Linked DNA regions of Homo sapiens. The protein of the gene in region 1 purifies or fractionates together with the protein of each later gene. This does not show direct contact. Each region holds a gene or a part of one and is shown on either strand. Other genes may lie near its edges.

What was found.
Region 2: the proteins of SLC2A4 (region 1) and SMAP2 purify together in Homo sapiens (affinity purification with mass spectrometry; 3 studies listed by BioGRID and IntAct, with this or other methods). This does not show direct contact.
Region 3: the proteins of SLC2A4 (region 1) and DNAJC12 purify together in Homo sapiens (affinity purification with mass spectrometry; 3 studies listed by BioGRID and IntAct, with this or other methods). This does not show direct contact.

The regions. Positions count from the first base shown.
Region 1 is NC_000017.11:7,277,161-7,285,106, reverse strand, and holds the start of SLC2A4 (solute carrier family 2, facilitated glucose transporter member 4), read right to left. Parts: upstream 3,390-7,946; 5' UTR 3,173-3,389; coding exon 3,140-3,172; intron 1,863-3,139; coding exon 1,746-1,862; intron 1,635-1,745; coding exon 1,462-1,634; intron 1,370-1,461; coding exon 1,245-1,369; intron 1,134-1,244; coding exon 1,018-1,133; intron 891-1,017; coding exon 728-890; intron 623-727; coding exon 435-622; intron 273-434; coding exon 168-272; intron 20-167; coding exon 1-19. UniProt on the Homo sapiens protein: Insulin-regulated facilitative glucose transporter, which plays a key role in removal of glucose from circulation.
Region 2 is NC_000001.11:40,411,316-40,419,250, reverse strand, and holds part of SMAP2 (stromal membrane-associated protein 2), read right to left. Parts: intron 6,236-7,935; coding exon 6,149-6,235; intron 5,093-6,148; coding exon 5,011-5,092; intron 3,980-5,010; coding exon 3,870-3,979; intron 3,076-3,869; coding exon 2,910-3,075; intron 2,472-2,909; coding exon 2,155-2,471; intron 1-2,154.
Region 3 is NC_000010.11:67,807,189-67,814,188, forward strand, and holds part of DNAJC12 (dnaJ homolog subfamily C member 12), read right to left. Parts: intron 4,476-7,000; coding exon 4,336-4,475; coding exon of another isoform or gene 4,309-4,335; exon of another isoform or gene 4,020-4,308; intron 1-4,019. UniProt on the Homo sapiens protein: Probable co-chaperone that participates in the proper folding of biopterin-dependent aromatic amino acid hydroxylases, which include phenylalanine-4-hydroxylase (PAH), tyrosine 3-monooxygenase (TH) and peripheral and neuronal tryptophan hydroxylases (TPH1 and TPH2).

The DNA.
Region 1 (7,946 bases):
CCCGCTCCACCAACAACACCTGCGGGGAGAGTCGGAGCTTGACCCCAGCCTTTTGGGCACGGGAAGTAGGAGGGGCCGCGTGGGTGAGGGCAACCAAGAGCAGGACCTCCGGGACACCCAGGGAGGTGAAGCCAGTGGCTCGGGCCATTCCAGAGGTGAGCAGTTACCGAGACCAAGGTGAAGACTGTGTTGACCACACCAGCTCCTATGGTGGCATAGGCAGGCTGGCCTACCCCTGCTGTCTCGAAGATGCTGGTCGAATAATAGAAAACCTAGAGGTGGGGGAGAAGAAGAAGTGATGGCAGGAATGCCCCTTCCTCTACTCCAGCCACAACAGGCTGGCCCTACCCTGGGTGTTGGTGGAGGGGGTTTGCTCCCCACTCTCGTCTACCCTCCCGGGGCTGTGCCCTGCCTGGAGGCTGCTCCACACATACAGCATTGATGCCAGAGAGCTGCTGGCTCAGCTGCAGCACGACCGCAATGATCAGGGGCTGCCGGTGGGTACGGCTGCCCAGGAGCTGGAGCAGGGACAGTGGCCGCTCACGCTCCAGCTTCCGCTTCTCATCCTTCAGCTCAGCCAGCACTCCAGAAACATCGGCCCAGCCTGTCAGGCGCTTCAGACCTGGAGAAGGGAAGGTCAGGCCTGAGGGGACCTGAGAGGAAGCCAGGTGCTAGCAAGATGAGGCGGAGGCATGGGCCTGGGCCAGGCTGCAGCGGGAGAGCTTACTCTTTCTGGCAGGCCCCTCGAGATTCTGGATGATGTAGAGGTAGCGGGGGCTCTCGGGACAGAAGGGCAGCAGGACCAGCTGCAGGAGGGCAGGTAGCACTGTGAGGCCCAGGAGCAGTGGCCACAGGCTGGCAGTGCCCAGGAGGGACTCCAAGCCCAGCACCTGTGGGAGAAGGTTGGGAAAGAAGGCAGGTCACTCAGCCCTTCTGCCTTACCTTGGAAGCCCACCATATTCTCCAGAGCCCCACTCTAACCACTGCCCAGGCACCCATGAGGCTTGCTCCGGTCACCTGGGCGATCAGAATGCCGATAACAATGGCCAGTTGGTTGAGCGTCCCCAGGGCGCCCCGCAGGTGAGTGGGAGCAATCTCCCCCACGTACATGGGCACCAGCCCTGATGTCAGCCCTGGGCGAGGGAAGAAGAGAGGGCTGAGGGCAGGTGTCCATTCCCATCTGAAAGCCCAGGCATGGTGAAAGAGAACAGGGCGCTAGGCAGGGCTGTGGTGCCCGTGAGTACCTGAGTAGGCGCCAATGAGGAATCGTCCAAGGATGAGCATTTCATAGGAGGCAGCAGCATTGGCCAGGCCCATGAGGCTGCCCCCCAGCACCGCCAGGACATTGTTGACCAGCATGGCCCTTTTCCTGGCAGGCAGACAGAGTGAGGCTGTGAGGGTGAGGGCACCCAGCAGTGGCTCCCTTCCTGTTTCCCCCACCCCTGCCCTCCAGCTGCGAACCTTCCAAGCCACTGAGAGATGATACCAATGAGGAAGGAGGAAATCATGCCGCCCACGGAAAAGATGGCCACGGAGAGGGCCCAGAGGGTGGTGAGGGTGCCTGGAGGGATGGAGCTGGGTCCCTCAGGCCCCTGCCTCCCCAGCCACGTCTCATTGTAGCTCTGTTCAATCACCTGGGGGACAGCAGAGGACAGATTTCCTGCAGACCGTCCCCTTTCCACCACCCCCGAGACACCTGTCCTCCTCGTTTGGGTACCCCCACCCTGCCAGCTGCAGGCCCTCACCTTCTGAGGGGCATTGATGACCCCAATGTTGTACCCAAACTGCAGGGAGCCAAGCACCGCAGAGAACACAGCAAGGACCAGGGTCCCAGTCACTCGCTGCTGAGGGGGTTCCCCATCCTGAACAGGCAGACACAAAGACACAGCATGTCACATGGAACCATGATTTTTTTCCTTCCGCTAGGGGCCCGGGCCCAGCTGGAGCCTGAAGATACTGGGCTCCACCCAACATGTTGGGTGAGGGAAACTGGGCCATATTAGGAATTGCACAAAGATCTCAATGTAAACAGGAGCTGAACTGCAACCTGGGCATAAAGGAGAAACTGGATGTTTGGGTCCATAAGGCAGAGAAATGTTTGAGAACTTGTCTCAAAATTCTTCTGTGACCTTGAGACAGGCTTGGCCTTAAGAGCTCAGATTTGTGTGACCTTGGCCAAGTCACTTCCCTGCCCCGAACCTGAGTGTCCTCTGTGAGATGGGGGTGATGTTGCCTGCCTTGCCTACCTATCTGTGAGAGTGTTGTGAAAATCAACATCACATGTTAACAATATCCTTGACAGTGCTGGTTTCATAAATTAACACGTGCATTATTATCATCAGCCACTGTCCTCTTCCCTCCCCTCTGGGGGTTCTGTCAGCCAGCTCCAGGAGGCCCCCAACAGGACCAAGAAGTGCTGTTCCAGAAAGGACATCCCGGTCATCTAGGGGTGGCCTTCTCTATCTACGTCGTGGCCTGCCCTCCCCCTCTAACCTCCGTGCAGGGAGGGCCGTCCAGGGGTTCTGCCTGGGAGAGCCATGCCCAGGGGAGGAGGGCAGGAAGGTAGTGTGAGGGGCGGTGGCAGTGGTGGCCGCTCGCTGGCGGCACAGACTGTCTCCAAGCGGAAACCTGAGCTGGAGGAGGGGGGGCTGACAGTCCCCTCTGCCCCTCCACCAACCATGGGGCCAAGGGAAAGTTCAGCGTCCTGGAGGGCGGCCAGGAGTGGGGGTGGGGGCCCACGGAGAGCCTCCGGTCCTCGAAACACTGCCCGTGAGCGAAGACGGACGGACAGCTCCCGGAGGGCAAGACCCGCCTGGATCTGCTTTCCCGAGTCGGATCGAGGGCAGGGTGTCCCCGATTCCGGAGCGCCGCGCCGCCTACTAGGCAAGGGGGTGAACCCTGGCTCGCAGAATCCACTTGCTGCCTGTGCCCCGAAAGGCCCTCCAGACCCACTCTGCCTTTTGGTAGGATTGGAATCTCACAGTCACGGGTTGTCCAGGCCGGGTATAAATAGCCAGCCCCCTACCTTCACCCCCTGCGCCTGCGCAGGAACCACCCCCAGCTGACCCCAACCGCGACCCCAGCCCAAGAAAAGCGGGACCCGTGCCCCCCCGCCCCGCCCCCTCATGATGAATCCTACTTCGGAGCCTATCTGTTGGAAGCCCGACGGCATCTCGTCTTAGAAGAGCTGGACGCGCAGGGGCGGCGAAGATGAAAGAACCGATCCTGGAGTCTCTGACTCCGGCCTGGAGCGCAGAACCTGCGGAGGCCGCGGGGGTCCCGGAGTGACGTGCGAGGGCGGGCCCGATGGGACCCACAGCCACAAGCCAAGGACCCGGAGAGCAGTGGGGCTCCCGCGGATCTGGTGGAGCGGGGCTGGGGGAAAAGACGCGAGAAGCCCCCGCCACCTCGCTCCTGCCCCCGCGGGCCACGCCCTTCACAGCACCCATTGGCCAGGAGCCCGCACACCCCAGAAGGCCACGCCCCCTCCGCCTGGGGTTTAGAGTTTGGCTGGAGTTGGTGGGGCGGGCCAATGAGGCCACGCCCCTCCGCGTGGCTGGCGAGACACGCCTCTCGGGTTCCCGCCAGCCTCCGACTGGGAAGTTTTGAGAAAAGAGTCCCTGGAACAAAAGGCCCCGCCCACCCACGTGTTAGGACTCCGCCCACCAGCTAGGATCCCGGGCTGCAGAAGCATCTTAAACTCTGCGGGTCTGGACAGTGGGGTCTGAGAGGAGAGGACGGGCCAGGTGTACTTGCCCCGGGGAAACTCCAGCGGCCTGAGACGGCTCGCGAGCCGGCGCGCGGGTTGGGAGAGGAGCAATGCCCCAAAGTAACCCGGGGCTGCTATTTTTAGCTCCCACGTTGGGAGCCTCCAAATGTCAGGTCCCGGGCGTCCCGGCCTGTCCCAGGCGGGGGCGGAGAGACAGGGAGATGACGCCTTAAAGAGTCCGCGACATGCTTCCCACGCGAGTGTGGCCCTGGGGGCCAGGAAATTCCGTTCCCACAACGGGTCTGGTGGCCGGGCTGCTTGGTCCTGTCTTTCAGCGCCTCCCTGCTCCGGGCACTGTCTATCCCGCCCTTCCCCTACACACATTCCCCAGGTTGGTTCCTGGAGCCGGTCCGAGGGACAAGTGGTCACAACCGACCACACCACCAGCCCTGAGGTCTCTGAGCCTCTGAGGTCTCTGAGCATATGCTGGCCGCGTGAACGACACGCTCTCTGGAGGCTGCTCCGGGTTTGGATCCTCGGCCAAATTCTGCCAGGCAGAAAGTGCGCGACCTAGGGTCGGCGTGTGGGGAGAGAGAAGCCGAAATACCCAGAGCGTGGAGAGTGTCTGGCTCAGAAAACGGGCTTCGGAAGCGCAGGGTTGTGCTGCCACCTGGAGGGCGAGCGAGGAGCCGCAGTGGATTGCACTTGGAATCTCAACCCACTATTTCTCGCCTTTCCGCCACCATAGGGCTTCAGTGACATCTGACCCAGGCCCTTCTCTGGAGCTGCAGATCCAGGTGTTCGTTACCGCCCGGATGTGGCAGCTCTAGTGATCAGCATGTCCAAACCTGCTCCTCCTCCTAACTTCCTTATTTCAATGAATTACCCGCCCAGTCACCCCTATGGTAGAAGTCAGGCTCGATTCCTCCTGTCCTGCGCCGCTCTCCTCGTTTATCCAGTTAGTTTCCAACATTGGTGCTTTGACCTCCAAAACTCTCTCACATTCATCCGATATTCTCCGTGGCGGCTGCCACTTCAGTCCAGATCACCATCACCCTCACTGGTCTTCGTGCTCCTCTTATTTCCTTTATGACGAGGGCAGAGAACAATTTTCGAAGGTCCAATCTCATCTCTCAAGCAAGAAGTCACTGTCTCTGTTGCCCCAATTGCCAAGTTCAAATCCCTTTTCAGAGTGAACAAAACCTCCTGCCTCTCTTATCCGATCTCTGGCCTTACCTATCTCTCCTGCCTCTCCTTCTATCTCCTTCGCCTCCTGTTCTGGGCAATGCCTAAGTCCTTATTGTACCCAGAACACACTGTGCCTTTACATCCCTTCTTGATTCCTTTGCTGCACTAATCCCCTGAAAAATCTGGAATGCCGGCCCGGCCTGGTGGCTCATGCCTGTAATCCCAGCACTTTAGGAGGCCAAGGCAGGTGGATCGACTGAGGTCAGGAGTTTGAAACCAGCCTGGCCAACATAGAGAAACCCCATGTCTGCTAAAGATACAAAAATTAGCCGGGCGTGGTTATGCACACCTGTAATCCCAGCTACTCGGGAGGCTGAGGCAGGAAAATGGCTTGAACCCAGGAGGTGGAGGTTGTAGTGAGCCAAGATCGTGCCCTTGCACTCCAGCCTGGCGACAGAGTGACTCCGTCTCAAGAAGAAAAAAAAAAATCCGGAATTCCAAAGGACTCCTCTTCATCCTTCAAAGAAAGCTTCCTCACCCAGTTCCTGCTCCACAGGTTCACTTTGTTTCCGGCTTCTGGGGACCTTGATCCCTGAGTTCCAGCACAGAAGATTGAACGAATGACAGTTATTAGCACACTGTCTTCACTGATCTATGTCTCATTTTTATTTTTGTTTTTGTTTGTTTTGAGACAGAGTTTCGCTCTTGTTACCCAGGCTGGAGTGCAATGGCACAACCTTGGCTCACTGCAACCTCCATCTTCCGGGTTCAAGCCATTCTCCCGCCTCAGCCTCCCGAGTAGCTGAGATTATAGGCATGCGCCACCGGGCCCAGCTAATTTTGTATTTTTAGTAGAGATGGGGGATTTCACCATGTTGGTCAGGTTTGTCTCCAATTCCCGACCTCAGGTGATCCACCTGCCTCGGCCTCCCAAAGTGCTGGGATTACTGGCGTGAGCCACCATGCCCGGCGATTTTACTGGTTTTGAGTTGAGGTCTCTGTTGCTCAGGCTCGAGTGAGAGGCACAGTCACCGATCACTGCAGCCTAGACTTCCTGGGCTCAAGCGGTCCTCTCACCTCAGCCTCCCAAGTAGCTAAGACTACACGTTCGATTCACCACACCCAAATGCTTATTCCAATGCATTCAATTATTCCAGTGCATTAAATGTTCATTTTTTTCTTTGTGCTCTTACAAAATATAAATCATTTTGTGTGCAAAGTTTTTTTTTTTTTTCTTTTTATGAGACAGTGTCTCGCTCTGTCACCCAGGCTGGAGTGCAGTGGGGCGATCTCCACTCATTGCAGCCTCCGCTTCCCAGGTTCAAGTGATTCTCCTGTCTCAGCCTCCGGAGTGGCTGGGATTACAGGCTTGCGCCACTGTGCCTGGCTAATTTTTGTATTTTAAGTAGAGACGGTTTCACCATGTTGGCCAGGCTGGTCTTCAACACCCGACCTCAAGTGATCTGCCCACCTCAGCCTCCCAAAGTGCTGGGATTACAGGTGTGAGTCACCACGCCCGGCCCAAACATTTTAAATTTCCATAAATAGCATCTTGTTATATATTTCACTCTGATCTTATTTTCAGTAATCACGATGTTTTTAAAATCCACTCGTGGCCAGGCGTGGTGGCTCACGCCTGTAATCCCAGCACTTTGGGAGACTGACGCGGACGGATCACAAGGTCAGGAGATCGAGACCATCCTGGCTAACACGGTGAAACCCTGTCTCTACTAAAAATACAAAAAATTAGCCAGACGTGGTGGCGGGCGCCTGTAGTCCCAGCTACTCGGGAGGCTGAGGCAGGAGAATGGCATAAACCCGGGTGGCGGAGGTTGAGGTGAGCCGATATCATGCCACTGCACTCCAGCCTAGGTGACAGAGTGAGGGTCCATCTCAAACAAACAGACAAACAAACAAACACAATGAGATCAGGCTGGGCACAGTGGCTCACGCCTGTAATCCCACCACTTTGGGAGGCCAAGGCCGGCCAAACACCTGAGGTCGGGAGTTCGAGACCAGCCTGACCAACATGGAGAAACCCTGTCTCTACTAAAAATACAAAATTAGCTGGGTGTGGCGGTGCATGCCTGTAATCCCAGCTACTCAGGAGGCTGAGGCAAGAGAATCACTTGAACCAGGGAGGCAGAAGTTGTGGTGAGTTGAGATCGCGCTATTGCACTCCAGCCTGGGCAACAAGAGTGAAACTTCATCTCAAAAAAAAAAAAAAAAAAAAGAGAGATCAGTTACTTTGTCAGATTTAGGCATTGCAGATACCTTCTCCCATTCTATCATCTCTATATTAATTTTTCCTTCATGAACTTCATGAAATAGATTTTTTTTCTTTTTTCATATGGAGTCTGGCTCTGTTACCCAGGCTGGAGTACAGTGGTGCAATCTCGGCTCACTGCAACCTCTGCCCACCGGGTTCAAGTGATTTTCTTGCCTTAGCCTCCTGAGTAGCTGGGATTACAGGTGTGAGCTACCACATGCAGCTAATTTTTGTATTTTTAGTAGAGACGGTGTTTCACCATGTTGGTGAGGCTGGCCTGGAGCTCCTGACCTCAGGTGACCCACCCACCTCGGCCTCCCAAAGTGCTAGGATTATATGTGTGAGCCACCGCTCCTGGCCAGAATAGAAATTATTAATTTAAGTGTAATGAAAATGACCATTTTTTCCCCTTATGGTTTGCAATTTTTGATAATTTGTATATATTCTTTCCCAACTCTGCACCATAAATGCATTCTTCTACATTTTCTTCCAGTAACTTTATAGTTTTACTTTTCACATTTAAGTCTTCTTGATTCCTCTAGAATTCATCCTTGTTTTAGGTGTTAGGGATCCAATTTACTTTTCTCTTTAGTGAACCACTTTTATCATATATCAAATTCTAATGTATGATGTAAGGGTCTGTCTCTGAATTTGTATTCTGTTCCATTGATGTATTTGTCTGTTCTTGCACAAGTTGATTTTTATGATACTTTGTAGCAAGTTTAAATTTCTGAGAAGGGCAAGAGACTTCTTGTTACTCATTCTTTTTTTTTTCTTTCT
Region 2 (7,935 bases), on another chromosome or scaffold:
ACATTTCACGTGTTTGTTCTAGTGATTACCTTCATAGTAATACTTTTTAGCAATGTCCTTGGTCTCCTTTTTCCTTATTCAAGCTTCCGTGATTTGGTTTGTCAGCTTATTGCATCCTTCGATTTCTACTTCTTTCCCATACAATATTTATTATTCAACTTTTCTCCCTCCTCCTTCATTTTCAGTTGTATTTGTTTGTCAGAATATAATGTATATTCTGCAACGCTTGTCACCACCTTTGTTTTAGTCTTAGATTCTCAATTAAACATTCAATTCTCACCATCAGTTCTTTTGCCAAAAATGAAAATGACCCCAGTCATCTCTTAGGTGGATGAAGCTTATCTTCTGTTAGATTCCCCAGGAAAGTCTTGTAAGTGTGATATTCTCTGAGTTCTTGCATATTTATTTTTTACAGCCTTGATACCTGAAGGATAGCTTGGCTGGCTTGGTTGTAAAATACTTGTTGTGTCTTGCATACACTTGAGTGTCTTTAAAATACTACTCTCCTTGTTATTCTTTTTGTATTTTGCTGCTAGGAAGTCTGATGTCAACCTGGGTATTTTTTGTTTGTTCTAAGTAACAGATTTTTGTGGGTAGGAGGTATGGAAAAGGTTGGACCCCTAAACATTTTGAATGTTCTTTAAAGTCTGTAGATTTGCTGGGATATGTTTTAAAGTTGACTGTTCTGGGTCAATTTTCCCAGACACACAGTGGGCTCTTTCCATATTATATCCAAGTCTTTTATTTCTAGAATGTTTTCTGGTGTTAAACACATTAATACTGTCCCATATTTTATTTATTTTGTCTTTATTTCTTTGGGCATCTCCAAATATATGTAAGTTTTCTTTGCCTAACTTCCATATTAATTTCCATCTAATTCTTTTTACTACTTTCTATATTTAGTTTTCATTCTCTTAGCTGTTTCATGCCTTTCCTCAATGCCGAATATATTTTCAGCTCAATCTATTGTTCTTTAGCTAACTTGTAATTGAGTCTTTATACGAAAATTTTGGCTTTTTCTTCAATTTCTTTTCTGAGTTTAGTAAACTTTCATTTCACAGCATGCAGTTTTTTATCCATTTTGGCTTTAAGTTTTTGAATTTCTGATTTAAGGTGTTTTGTCTTATCTGCAAATGTTTAAGGACATTTAATTCAGATTGGTAGATTGTGTAACAATTTTCTTCTGCTTCATGACTGTTTTTTGAGGGAGAATATTCATTACGTGAAATGTTTTGATTTTCATTTTCTATTTTCTTCCTGTAGTAGTTGTGTACAAATGTCAGCTTCCATGTTTGGTTCATTTTTGTAAGGTCTTATTTTTTCTCAATCAGCAATAATAGGTGTGAAGGTTTGGGGAGGCTTACTAAATTTCTTAGATTAAGAGCACCATCTTTTATTAGTGAAGTGGTTATTTTGGAAGAGGGAAGAAGGTGTATATTTGATTTTGTGATTCTCATTCCCATTTCTCGTGTCTTTCTTTCCTTCACCACCAGTCCTCTAAAGGGTACCTCCTCCTTTTAGGCCATGCCCATCTCCCCGAGAAGCAATGCTTTCCCAAGGTTACTACCTATACTCCTATATATCTGAAGTCTCTTATTTTTGATCCTCCAAGTAAACAGAGTTCTAATCTACCACATCTCAGACCTGTTCTCAGTATGTCTTTGATGAGGGTAGGTCCTTCTCCTTCTGGGGGGTTACTTTATCTGTGGTATTATTGCTAGGCCCCTGCTCCATCTTCTCTTTTTACAGTCTCCTCTGTGATGCTGGCTCCGCTGGATTTGGTGTTTATATGCCCATTGCCATGCCATTTGAACCTTGCAGTATTCTGTCTACCAAATGAGATTGTTGTGAGAATATCTGCATTCATTGTTTGTACAGGGTTTCTTTGTGTGTTTGTTTTTGCTTTTGAGAATGTGTGGAGAGATTCAGATTTAGGCAGTTGGGCTTATTCTACAGGAGCCCAGAACTCCTCAGAAAGTCTGACTTTAGACAGACCTTCTAGGAAAAAAAAAAAAAAAAAAAGCAAACCTAACAATGTCTCTTACATTATCTCATCTACATGGAAAGGATTCAAAGGATAGTGGAGAGGTACAAACCGAGAAAAACTTGAGGAAGGCTCAAAACTCTTGCTGCAAGTAAAATGGGGTAGCTTACCTGAGTAAGGTTCCATTGCAGCTGCTGAGCTGGCTGGACCCCATACACAGTCTGGGGCATAGCTGCCATGCCTGCCATGTAGCCAGCCTGCTGGGTGGTCATCATTCCATTCGGCACACCCATCATTGATGCCTGCATGCCACCCATATAGCCTGCAGGCATGGCCATGGGGGCAACCATCCCAGAAGCTCCTGGCTGAGCAACCATGCCTACTGGTGGAGGCATCATGCTCCCCATTATGCTGTTAGGAGGTGTAACCCCGGGGAAGCTGGGGTAGGCTGTGGGATATGCCATCTGAGCGGGAGCCATGAACATTGCTGCCAAGAAAACACACATACAGGTTGGTTAAAGAGGGAAAAACATAAAGTCAGCCCGAACTCTCCCTGGCTAACCCTTTCCAGCTGGAATTTCTCAGGATTACTCTACTCACAATGCTCTTTACACAGCAAAGTAGTTAGAGTCCCTACGAGGCCTGCTATAGCTTACCAATGGGCTGCTGACCGAGCCATTTTCCCTTTAGGGTCCAGATCCAGACCTTGAGCTAGACTTCACCGAATTGTGACCCCAGACTCCACAGAAGTATGACTCTGAGTTACATTAATTTCCATCTGCTGATACGTTGGTCATGTTCAGGTTTGTTTGGTGTATGACATCCTGGCCCCCAAAGCAACTGTCCTCTGTCACAATAAATAATTCCTGCATGGAAGCCCTCATGTCTCTACCTGGCACATGGCCATGACACCCATGAAATCTACCTTGAGTAGGCATTTGAGGCGTCTGGGATCCATACAGTGAAAGAATGGAGTCTTTAGAGAGCTGTTTCTTGCCTATTTCTTCTGATTTGCTCCCTGGCTCCGGAAACAGGTTCAGATTTTCAGGAACAGAGCCGGCACTCCCTGCAGTTGGCATGGAACCTACAACCTTAGGGCAAAGAGGGCGGGGGGAGAATTGAAATGGTTCTCATGGGGGTCTCTTTAAGGGTCTCCCTTCCCTCTCTGCTGCTCCTAACATCTGCAATAAGAATTCATGGCTCAAGTTAATAGCTTCCTAACATTTTTACCATTCAACTATCTGAACACACCTGATAATTAAGCTCTGTTACAATTCTTTCCTTTCACCAAAACATGTGATTTGGTAGGAACAAACAAACAAAACAACCCACAAATGATGCAGCAGAGGGAACTGAGTTTAGACCCCAGTGTAGCCATTTACTAGTATAACCACAGGCTAGTCACATAACTTTTACAAACTAATGTCTCCACATCTGTAAAATTTCCACTTTGCAGGTTTGTGGTGAAGGAGTGAAATTATTAATGAAATATACAAAATGATATACAAAAACCACCTCACACTGTGCCTGAGACATAGCAGGCGTTTCACGAATGGTAGCCATTAAAGGTTTCAAGTCTTTCCTACCTACAATTTTCTGGCAGTAACTCAGGCCGAGGAGCTAGCCTCAAGTATCAGCCTTCACAGTATCACACACTTTCCAGAGAAGCAACTCAAATGGCCCACCCTTTTTGAGCAGGAGAAAAAAAGGCATGAACAGCAATCTTAGACTGTGACAGAAATGACACAATGTTAAGGGAAGAATGAAGAATCAAGAAAACCAAAGTCCAACTCCACCAAGGAAGCATGACGTGGTTCCATGATTAAGATATCAAAATCACCCATTTCAGAATGTTCTTTAATCCTGAGGAGCCCACAAGACTCACCTTTCTGGAACCGGAAGAAGAAGGGGATGGAACAGAGGCCAACAGATCTAAATCCTTCTCTAGGGTATTGCTGGTCTTACTATTTGCAATGGAGCAGGCCACAGGAGCATCTAGAAAGAGAGATCGAAGTTAAGATGCAGCACTGCTTATTAAGCCCATGCCTTCCTTCTATTCTAGACAAAAAGCAAAGGTGGCCCATAAGCTCATGGACCTAGAAATCTAGACTTCTGGAACCATCTAGCATGGACGGGGCTTCTCAAAAGAGGCTTCACCCCACATTCCCAGAGTGCTCTGGGGAAGCCTGTAGCCCAGCTATCAGGCACAGGGCAGCAGACGCCCAGGCCTGAAGGGTATTTCAGCACCACAGTGGGGGGCTGGCTGGCTCCCTTCTGGCTATTTGAAGGGCAAGGTATGGAGGAGGGTTCATTTTCAGAGAGCAAGGAAAGGTACAGAAATTAGAAGCCTAAGTAGCCAATAACCTCAATCAGCAGAAGCGGATGGAAACAAAGTGCAACCATCAGTGCTGTGAAAGGCAGACAACAGGCTTTCTTTCTGAAAGGGCAGAATCACTAGTTCAGGATTTCAAAGGTTTGGAGAAAAATGACCACAGGCCATCTCAGAAACAGGTTGCATCTGAAAAATGAAAGGAATGGGGGCAGGGAGTGGAGTACAGGGAATTGACATGAGGCTCAAAGGTGCTGTTTAGCAAAACTGCTAACATTTATGGAGGGCTCAGTATGTGCCAGGCATGGGGCTAAGAGCTTTAGAGGCATTATCTCATTTAATCCTTCCAACAACACCTTTGAAGTAGAGACTCATTCTCACTGCACGGATTATGAAAGCAACATTCAGAGGTTAAGTAAACTACCCATGGTCACACAGACAGTAAGTAACACAGAGCGACACTGGCTCCAAAGGCCATGCTCTTAACCACTACACCACACTGTCGCTCTGAAAAGTGTCACAGTAAACACTTCCTTAGAGCAACTGCTCAGATGTAAAACAGATCAGGAAGAATGTGAGAGAACAGTCTTGGCAATGAAGACAAAACTGGAGAACCCCATCTCTACCTATCTTCCAGGGTCACTGAGAATTTATCAAAATTTGTAAGAACATGGAAGCTGAAAAGTCCAACTCTTACCAAGGCCCAACAAATCCATGACAGGCGCTGTGGATTTCGGGGAGCTTTTCCGAGGTAGCTGTGGGTCTTCTTTTTTCTGTGGCTAAGGTGAAAATATGTTATAGCAAGAAATAAGCAGGTGGTTTTGAACTCTTTTCCCATCTCCACTGTAAAGCCACGGTGTTCTTGTGGGTAGGGCTGCTGTTATTCAAAGAGAGTTACCAAAGAAACAAAACTCAGGAAGTATTAGGTGAAAGAATCAAGTCAGGAGGCAGAAGTGCATAAACCAAACCTAAAATGAAAAACAAAGATATCGCCTGTGATTGTCTGGTGTCCTAAAGAGACAGATCTTTCTGAAACCAAGACAACCACAGAACAGGGGATCCAACAGAAGCAGCAGTTTTTGGTCCCAGGAAAAGCCAAGAATAAAGGTAGGTATCTGATGGTACAAGAGCCAAGAGCCAACAAATCTCCCAGTGGTTAGAAAACCTTTTACTTTAACACCAAAAGGGAGGTTGGTTTAAAGATTACCTAATTCACTCTGCCAGTATCACTAGTGATTGTGTCCACAGACAATGTGATTCAGAACGATGATAAAAGACTCTTCCTTAAGCAATAGTAAGTAAAGTCCTCTCTCCCAAGATTCCAAGTTTTTATGTTAGAGATTCTACTACTACAGCCACAATATGTCCTGTGGAAAAAGAAGGGTGTCTGTTTCAACATGACAAAGCAAGAACATAAGAAGGGATCACTTAAAATGGACTAATATGGCCTCACTTCTGGACTGTTCTTCATTGAAATCAGAAAATGGGATACAGAAGGTCTAACAAGAGAAGGACTAATGTGGAAATAGCATCTGCTCAGATGGTGTCCCTCAGCCTTGGCATTCTGGCTTGGAATGTGCCTCTTGCTTAGATGGAACAGATGCATTTCCTGAGTTCTCATCTGGCCCCAAAGCGAAGCCCTTACAGAGCAGATTTAGGCAGCAACTGGTAACGAGAGAGCAGAAATGATAGCAGGCAGTCCAATCCAGATGCAGAACCCTTTAGCCCCAGCTGTGATGGTGCAATGGTACTCACCACGAGACCTCCTACTTTCCCTTTCACAAATATACACATACCTGAGGCTGTCCATACAGTGCAAATACTTCCCAACTTACCATTTTCACCTTCTCAAAAACAACAGGTTCCAATTTTTTTTCTGGAACTGGTTCGCTCCCTCTTTTCCACTTGTCATCTTTTTCTTTCTATAATGATTTAACAAGACAAAGAACACAGGGCCCAAGGTGACTAATAGTTGGATAAATCATAATTCCAAGTGTCCGAAAAGGACACCTCCAATCCCTATTGATTCTGACGTAAGTGTCTGACAAGCTTGGGGGGCGGTGTCTTGGTGTGGAGCATGAGAGTTGACCTCTTCCACATTGGCCTCAATGCTGTACGAGGCGTCTTCCAAACACCTTAGGCGCCCGCCCTCCTAACCCACTCATGACTGTTGACATTTGCAGTCGAGGCTATGTACAGACGCTAAAACATTTTACCAGTATGCTGCCCACCTGTGCCCCAAATTTAATTTGCCCATGCTTTGAGAGGTCTCCCCTCATATCAGTATACTAGTGAATAAGTTCATCTTACTCAGCTTATGTCCTTTGTGATATCATAAATTCAATCATAGGTCCTCTCAATATTCATTTTTTTAACAGTCAGAAAATAAACCTTAATTTCAAGTTTACAGATTAGAAGAACAAAAATTAAGTTTTAAAATCAAATAAACATCTAAATGTAAAACAAAACCACAAAGTAACCTTAAGAATACAGAGTATAGCATACATATGAAAAACATGTTTGGTCTTGCCAGTGATAAAAAATGCAATTTAAAATGCACTTTATGCAGGGAGAAAGATCTTTCTATAATGGTGGGAGGGATGAAGTGAAACCAGTACTCTTATACAATGCTGAGAAGAGAGAGTAAAATGGTACAAATTCTGGAAAGTATATTGGCAAAACTAGGAAGAGACAAATGTTGAAATCCTTTGACCTAGATGATACCATATCTTGTAATGTATCTTACGAAAATAGTCCAAAATATGAAAAAGGTTAAATGCACCAAGTTCACCCCAGAATTATTTATGCTAAAAAAAATTAAATAACATTTATGCCACAGAAGGGAAATGGTAAATAAATTATTACTTTCAGTGATTTAGCTACTCACTGAAAGATGATGCAACAATTAAAAATTATAAACACTATATAAGCAACACAGAAATATATGTTAAGTGGAATGAAGGCACGAGAAGTCTACATAACTGTATTATAATTATGCCTCCAAAAAGAAACTATTTAGAAAAAAAGGGGAACACACCAAGAAGATAATTATTAGCAAAGATAGTGAGAGTATGTATGGATATTTCACTTTAATTTTCATTTTCTCTAAAATAATTTTATAATCAATACATGCAGCTGTTTTTCTCATACAAAGTGTATGTCTTTAACACGACATTTCATTTAAGTTAAAAATGTTTTATCTGTCCATTATAAAAAGAATAGTTTTTAACAAAGCCAGTTTCTTTTCATTTGATATTAAACGTCTTCACTTAGCAAATACTAATTATTGGCATAAAAATCTTCACAAAATATGAAAAAAATCTAAGTACATTAAATAACAAATTCTGAAATAGCTTTTTGGTAAATGGGAGGTTATTTCCTTCCTAAGAGAAACATCCGGTAACCGGGCTTGCTTTCATGGGTACAGTATACCAGCAATGAAATCATGAATACCCTGAGGGCAGAGCTGCTGTTTCCACAATAGCTGTGTACAAATAGCAACTCTACTCCTTCGTCATCTGAATTATCTCAGATACCCTTTTCTGACCTCATCTGAGTTCATATCTTTAGGCACAATGAACAGAGCTGGGCAGACAGACCACAGTTTTCTACAAATAAAACG
Region 3 (7,000 bases), on another chromosome or scaffold:
AGGCAGAGGTTGCAGTGAGCTGGTATCGCACCACTGCACTCCAGCCTGGGTGACAGAGCGAGATTCTGTCTCAAAAAAAAAAAGAAAATATTCAATTTTAAAAATTAGGCGAAGTTTCGATGCAAAAACATACAAGGTGGGAGATTCCTGGTGCCAACAATATGTGTGGGAAGGGAATAGTTACAGAGTAAACACTTCAAAACCATTTGCTAAATTGTAAATGCAAGTATTACCCATTTCTCTGTAGATTTTATTTCAAAATAAAAACGTTAATTTTTAAAAGAGGCAATGCCTCAGCTGGTATTAAAAAAAAAAATGACTTTTGTTTGGTTGGTTTAGGTTTGTTGTTTTGGTTTGGTTTTTGCATATGCACAAAATAAAAGAGGCTGCCAGTGACTTCCTCTGCAGAGGGAAAAGGATATTAGGAAGGTTAGTGAAAAACAAGGAATAAGACATTCAAGAATTCAGGGCCCAGAGAGCTGAAAATGTAAACTGTGAGCTTCACAAGCCAGCAAAGTGGCCTGTACGTGATGTATTGATCTCTGTGCCTCAGTACTTCTCTCTTGAAATCAAAGTACCTGTGGTCTGTCTTAGATAGGTTAGGATTAATGTCTAATCCACAGTAAATGCTTTAAAGGTCCTCAGTGAAAAGATGTTCTGAAATAGTAGTCTTATCCATCTCCTTTGTGAGTAAATCAGAATAAAATATGTTATCAGACTCCCATATCTGCTGATCCTCATTAAAGAAATATACAGAAGAAATATCCAAACTGTATCTAACCTTAGATACAAGTGCTTCTCACGCTTTGTAGTTCAATCAAAGGACTAACATCAGAGTGATGCTAAGCAGCCTGGTTTGCTGGGACACAGTTAGATAGTCTGCAAATCACTCATTTCTGTGTTCACAAGCATATTTCTCAACTCCACAAGGGTATTAGTTGCACAGAACAACATTTAACATCAAGCGAACTAGTCTATTATGCAGCTACTCATTTCAGTAGAATCAGCATCAATAAAAGATATCAAATGACAGCAATTGATACAGACTAAGAGAGAGACTAGAAAGGGGAGAGTCTACAGCAAGATAATAAAATGCACAAGACAGAAAATCTATATATGCATGGAAGGAACTAACGCTAAACAGACAGCAAGCCTAGGTGCAAAGGCCACTAATCTTAACAGTCTGTGAAATTTCTATGTTGTTATTCTGCCTTCACAATTAACTTGTTTACTAGCTTTCTTGAACGAGTTGGTTTTTTTTCTCTAGGAAGTCATTTTCTTACATTCTAGACCTTGGTCAATACTAGGAAATAGTGCTCGTCTCAGCAGCACATATACCAAAATTGGAATGATACAAAGAAAATGATCATGGTCCCTGTGCAAAGACAACAGGCACGTTCGCGAAGCATTCCATTAAAACACACACACACACACACAAACACACAGGGAAATAAAAAATTTTGTTTACATGCCAGTAAACATTGGCACAACATTTTTTTAAATCCATGGACTCAGATGAGCCATAGATCAGCTGAATAGCTATACAAAATTGACTGGTTATTATTATCCTGGATCAGTGATCACCATGAGTGGATTTTTCACTTATCAGGGTGATTTCTGACCTGCTTTTGGATAACATCCAATTAAGACAGATTGCCTTTTGAACCAGCAGAAGGTGTTGAATTGCATACTGTTTCCCATCTGGCTGGTGAAACTGTGGCCATGTGGGCATAGTGTAGGAAGCTTTCTGGATAGGTAGTCTATGGCCAGTTGAACCCACCCCAAAGACACCTTGCCCAGCTGGGAACCCAGAAACAATCAGCAGACAAATAGGTCCACACGAGGCTGACCCAACAAGCCCTCCCAGAGGCAATCAATTTGTCAAATGATCAATTCACCAAAAATGTGTTTCTATTAACTCTTTATAAAATTTACAGCAATTGAAGTGGCATAAGATAGTTTTAACGGCTTATGAGAATTTTTTTTAGCCATTCATTTTGACTGTGCCTTTGCTGTGGCTTCTTTTTCCCATAGGCATCCTAAATCCATGCTGCCATATATTTTGGTGCTAGAGGGAGAGCCATCCACACCCTGGGTCTCTTTGGGTAAAACCATTTAGCATGACAAAGATACATTTCCCTAAGATTCTCTGGAATCCTGGGATAACTCTTCAGGTTATCCCAGGATCCCAAAGGCCTGAATTACTGAATCCTCACTCCAAACCTTTTTTTTCAAACCAATACTACATGTCTAAATTTAAATCGCCAACATATTCATTGACCTGGGTGAGGTCTTAAAATATTTTTACCAATTAAACTAGCAGGAGGAACTTCTAGAAAACAAAAAGAAATAAATAAGTAGGTAGTAAAGTGACAGACTTAGTGTAGGGAAAAAATACCAGTTCAGTTGCATCACTCCTGGATGATAGAAATGTGGTGGATATATACACCATGGAATATTACTCAGCCCTAAAAAAGAGCAAAATAATATCTTTTGCAGCAACTTAGATGGACCTGGAGGCCATTGTTCTAAGTGAAGTAACTTAGGAATGGAAAACCAAATATTGTATGTTCTCCATTATAAATGGGAGCTAAGCTACGGATACACAAAAGCATACAGAGTGGTATAATATAATGGACTTTGGAGACTCAAAGTGGGAGGCTGGGACGGAGAGTGAAGGATAAAAAACTACATAATGGGTACAATGTATACTACTCAGGTGATGGGTGCGCTAAAATTTCAGACTTCACCACCATACAATTCATCCATGTGTCTAAAAACCACTTGTATTAGTCCATTTCACACTGCTGTAAAGAACTACCTGAGACTCAGTAATTTATGACGAAAAGAGGTTTAATTGACTCACAGTTCCTCAGGCTTAACAGAAAGCATGACTGGGAGGCCTCAGGAAACTTACAATCATGGCGGAAGGTGAAGGGGAAGAAAGGGCCTTCTTCTCATGGTGGCAGGAAAGAGAGAGAAGGTAGAACTGCCACATACTTTTAAACCATCAGATCTCATGAGAACTCACTATCATGAGAAAAGCAAGGGGGAAATCTGCCCCCATGATCCAATCACCTCCCATCAGGACCCTCATCCAATTCAACATGAGATTTGGGCAGGACACAAATCCAAACCATATCAACACTTGTACCCCAAAAGCTATTGAAAATTTTTTGAAGTTTTTAATTTAAAAAAATGTGGCACCCCTGAGGCTGTGGCTCGTTTGAGGAATTCTCCCAAAGGAAATTCCCAAGATATGATCCTGTGTGTGATGCTACAAAAGTACACCGTGATTTGTCCTGCCTTGTGGGTATAGGGACTAATAATGTTCCCAAACAATGCTTTTCCGTTCCAGAGGGATTATACTATTTAAACAAAAAGCAGAAACACAGGGTTGATGGTGTGAAGGAAAGGGAATTTATGAGATTTAACAATCTAGCCAGGTGCGATGGCTCATGCCTGCAATCCCAGCACTTTGGGAGGCCGAGGTCTTTTATCAACAATTTGCTCAAGTCTTCTAAAATAAAAACTATGAAGAAGGAAATCTAAATGTAACCCTGAAGGGCTATAATTTAAGAGATGTGAATCATTTTATACACTAATTCTAACAACTGTCCCTGAAAACTTACCTATGAGGTAATTTCTGTATTATAAGTCCCATGTCATAGAAAAGTGTTCCAATGGAGAGAATCTAGGTAATAAATCATGCCTAAATCTTTAAAATTACATTTTGTCTATAATATATAAAGGTCAATGTTGAACAAAATAAATATATGACAGTAATTATAGTGAATATTTTGATATTTATGCCTTTTAATGACATGAAGAAAGATAACACAATGTTTTTAAAGTCTAACAATTCTTTCACCAGAATGTTTAATAGGAATAATTCATGGCTTTCTCTGACTAATCAGATCCTGCCTTTTTAATGAAAATTCTAAGCCTTGAAAAGAGAGCAAGCTGACATAAACTAAAAAGATGGAGAATGTGAATTTACAATGGTTAAAACTCAGCAATTCATGAGCAACTTGAGAAGTACATTTATTAGAGCTCATAAAATAGTAAGCAATAACAGGGAGTGTGTATACTGAAACAAACAGCCAAAGAGATTGAAAGAAATGTAGTCACAGGCTCTTCTGGCACAAATTCATTGCCTTTATTCTGATGAGCTTCTCTTCATGGGATTTACGGACACTGAATTATATCCAGACTCTGCTAACTTCTTGGTTTTCTCCCTCCTATCGCCTAATGACTCTTTAAGCTACTACATGAGTCTAATCCATGGGCATCCTGAGCTTCACAAATTCACGTCGCACCCAGCGAGAAACCCACCGTCTTCACTGAGTCATTCAAAGCTTCCCACTGCTGGAATGGCATCGACATCTGGCTCCTTCGCCAGTGGTCATAGCGGGCTCGACTCTCTTCATTGGTCAGAATCTCCTTTGCCTTCTGCAGTTTCTGAAAAGTCTCCACTGGAAAACAAATCAAGAAATGAGCACTTCTCTCTCGGAGAGGATATTTTAAACTCCAAAACTATCCAACTGCTCTTACTAAAACCATGACTGCCACTTAATAGCTATGTGACCTTGGGCCAATTTACCTCATTAAGCTTTTGTAAAGGGTATCATAAGGACAAGCAAGATCATGGATGTAAAGTGCTCGGCACAGTTTATCCACTCCCTGTATTGTGCCTCAGTCATGTGCCAGAGGCTACTCCCGGTGCTGATGACACAGATGTGAATAATAGACATTATTAGCAGGGGAAAGAAACATTTGTAAACATTGAAAAAATACTATTCCACCTTATAGGAAGAAAACTACCTTTTTTAGTGCTGGGTGTGAAACAGGGCAGTAATTAGGCAAGAGGGACAGTAAAACTGAAGACTATAAAGACTATAAAACTGAAGACTATAAAGACTATAAAGACATGACTGAGGCACAATACAGGGAGTGGATAAACTGTCCCAAGCACTTTACATCCATGATCTTGTTTGTCCTTATAAAGCAGGAAGGAGCACGGTGACTTAGAGGAAGTAGTAATTGCCAGTGTGGCTGGAGGACACAAGGCTAGGGAAAGAACGATGAGGGATGGGGCTGTAGAGTAGACAGACAATAGCTCAATCAACCAGGGCCTGAGATGTCATGTTAAGGATGCTGGCCTGCTTTTTGTCGTAAGAGAAACGGGAGGCTTTAAGTATAATAAATAACATGGTAGATGCTGGGACAAATGGTAGCTTGTCACTAATCTACTTGACCAGATGGTATATAATAGAAACCTTTTATGGCTCTGTTAGAAACACCTCCAAAGTCTCTTCTGCTCCTCAGTGAAGTAAAAACTTTCTGCAGAGCAGAATACAAGATTTATATACAGGCCGGGTGCAGTGGCTCAGGCCTGTAATCCCGGCACTTCGGGAGGACAAGGTGGGTGGATCACGAGGTCAGGAATTCAAGACCCAGCCTGGCCAAGATGGTGAAACCCCATCTCTGCTAAAAATACAAAAAAAAAAAAAAAAATAGCTGGGGGTGGTGGCAGGCGCCTGTATTCCCAGCTACTCGGGGGCTGAGGCAGAGAATTGCTTGAACCTGGGAGGCAGAGGTTGCAGTGAGCCGAGATTGTGCCACTGGACTCCAGCCTGGGCGACAGAGCGAGACTCCATCTCAAAAAAAAAAAACAAAAAAAAGTAGCCAGGCACGGTGGCCCAGGCCTGTAATCCCAGCTACTCAGGAGCCTGAGGCAGGAGAATCGTTGGAACCCGTGAGGCAGAGCTTACAGTGAGCCGAGTTTGCACCACTGCACTCCAGCCTGTCCGACAGAGCAAGACTCCATCTCAAAACAAACAAACAAAAATTCATATGTTGAATTCTTAACTCCCAAAATGATAGTATTAGGAGATGGGGCTTTTGAGATATGATTAGATCATGAGGGTGGAACCCTCACGAATGGAATCAGTGCCCTAATAAAAGAAACCCAGACAACTCGCTCACTCTGTTTCCCCCATGTGAAAACACAGCAAGAAGACAATTAGCTAGGCATGGCGGTGGGCGCCTGTAATCCCAGCTATTTGGGAGGCTGAGGCAGAAGAATCTCATGAATCTGGGAGGTAGAGGTTGCAGTGAGCCAAGATCACACCACTGCACTCCAGCCTAGATGACAGAGCGAGACTCCGTCTCCAAAAAATAAAAAATCAATATACAAATATCAGTGGTGTCTCTACACAGTAGCAATGAACAATCTGAAAATGAAATTAAGAAAATTCCATTTATAAGAGCATCAAGAGCCGGACCCAGTGGCTCATGCCTGTAATCCCAGCACTTTGGGAGTCCGAAGTGGGCGGATCACGAGGTCAGGAGTTCGAGACCAGTCTGGCCAACATGGTGAAACCCCGTCTCTACTAAAAATACAAAAAAAAAAAAAAATTAGTTGGGTGTGGTGGCAGGCGCCTGTAATCCCAGCTACTCAGTAGGCTGAGGCAGGAGAATCACTTGAACCTGGGAGGCGGAGGTTGCAGTGAGCTGAGACCATGTCATTACACTCCTGCCTGGGTGACAGAGCAAGACTCTGTCTCAAAAGAAAAAAAAAAAAGCTTCAAGAAGAATATAATATTTTTAAAAAATTGAACAAAAGAAGGAACTACACAATATTGTCAAAAGAAGCTAAAGAAGATCTAAATAAATGAAAAGACATCCCACGTTCATAAAGATTTACTATTGCTAAAATGATAATACCCCCCAAACTGATCTGCAGATTCAACATAATCTCTATCAAAATCCCAGTTGCCTTTTTTGCAGAAATTGACAATCTAGTCCTAAAATCTGTTTGCAAATACAAGGGACCCAGAATTGCCAAAAAAAAAAAAAACTCTTGAAAAAAATAAGAGCAAAGTTGGAGAATTCACACTTCTGAATTTCAAAACTTATACTACAAAGCTACAGTAGTGAAAACAGTGTGGTACTAACATAAGGATAGACATACTTATAAATGGAATAGAATTGAGAA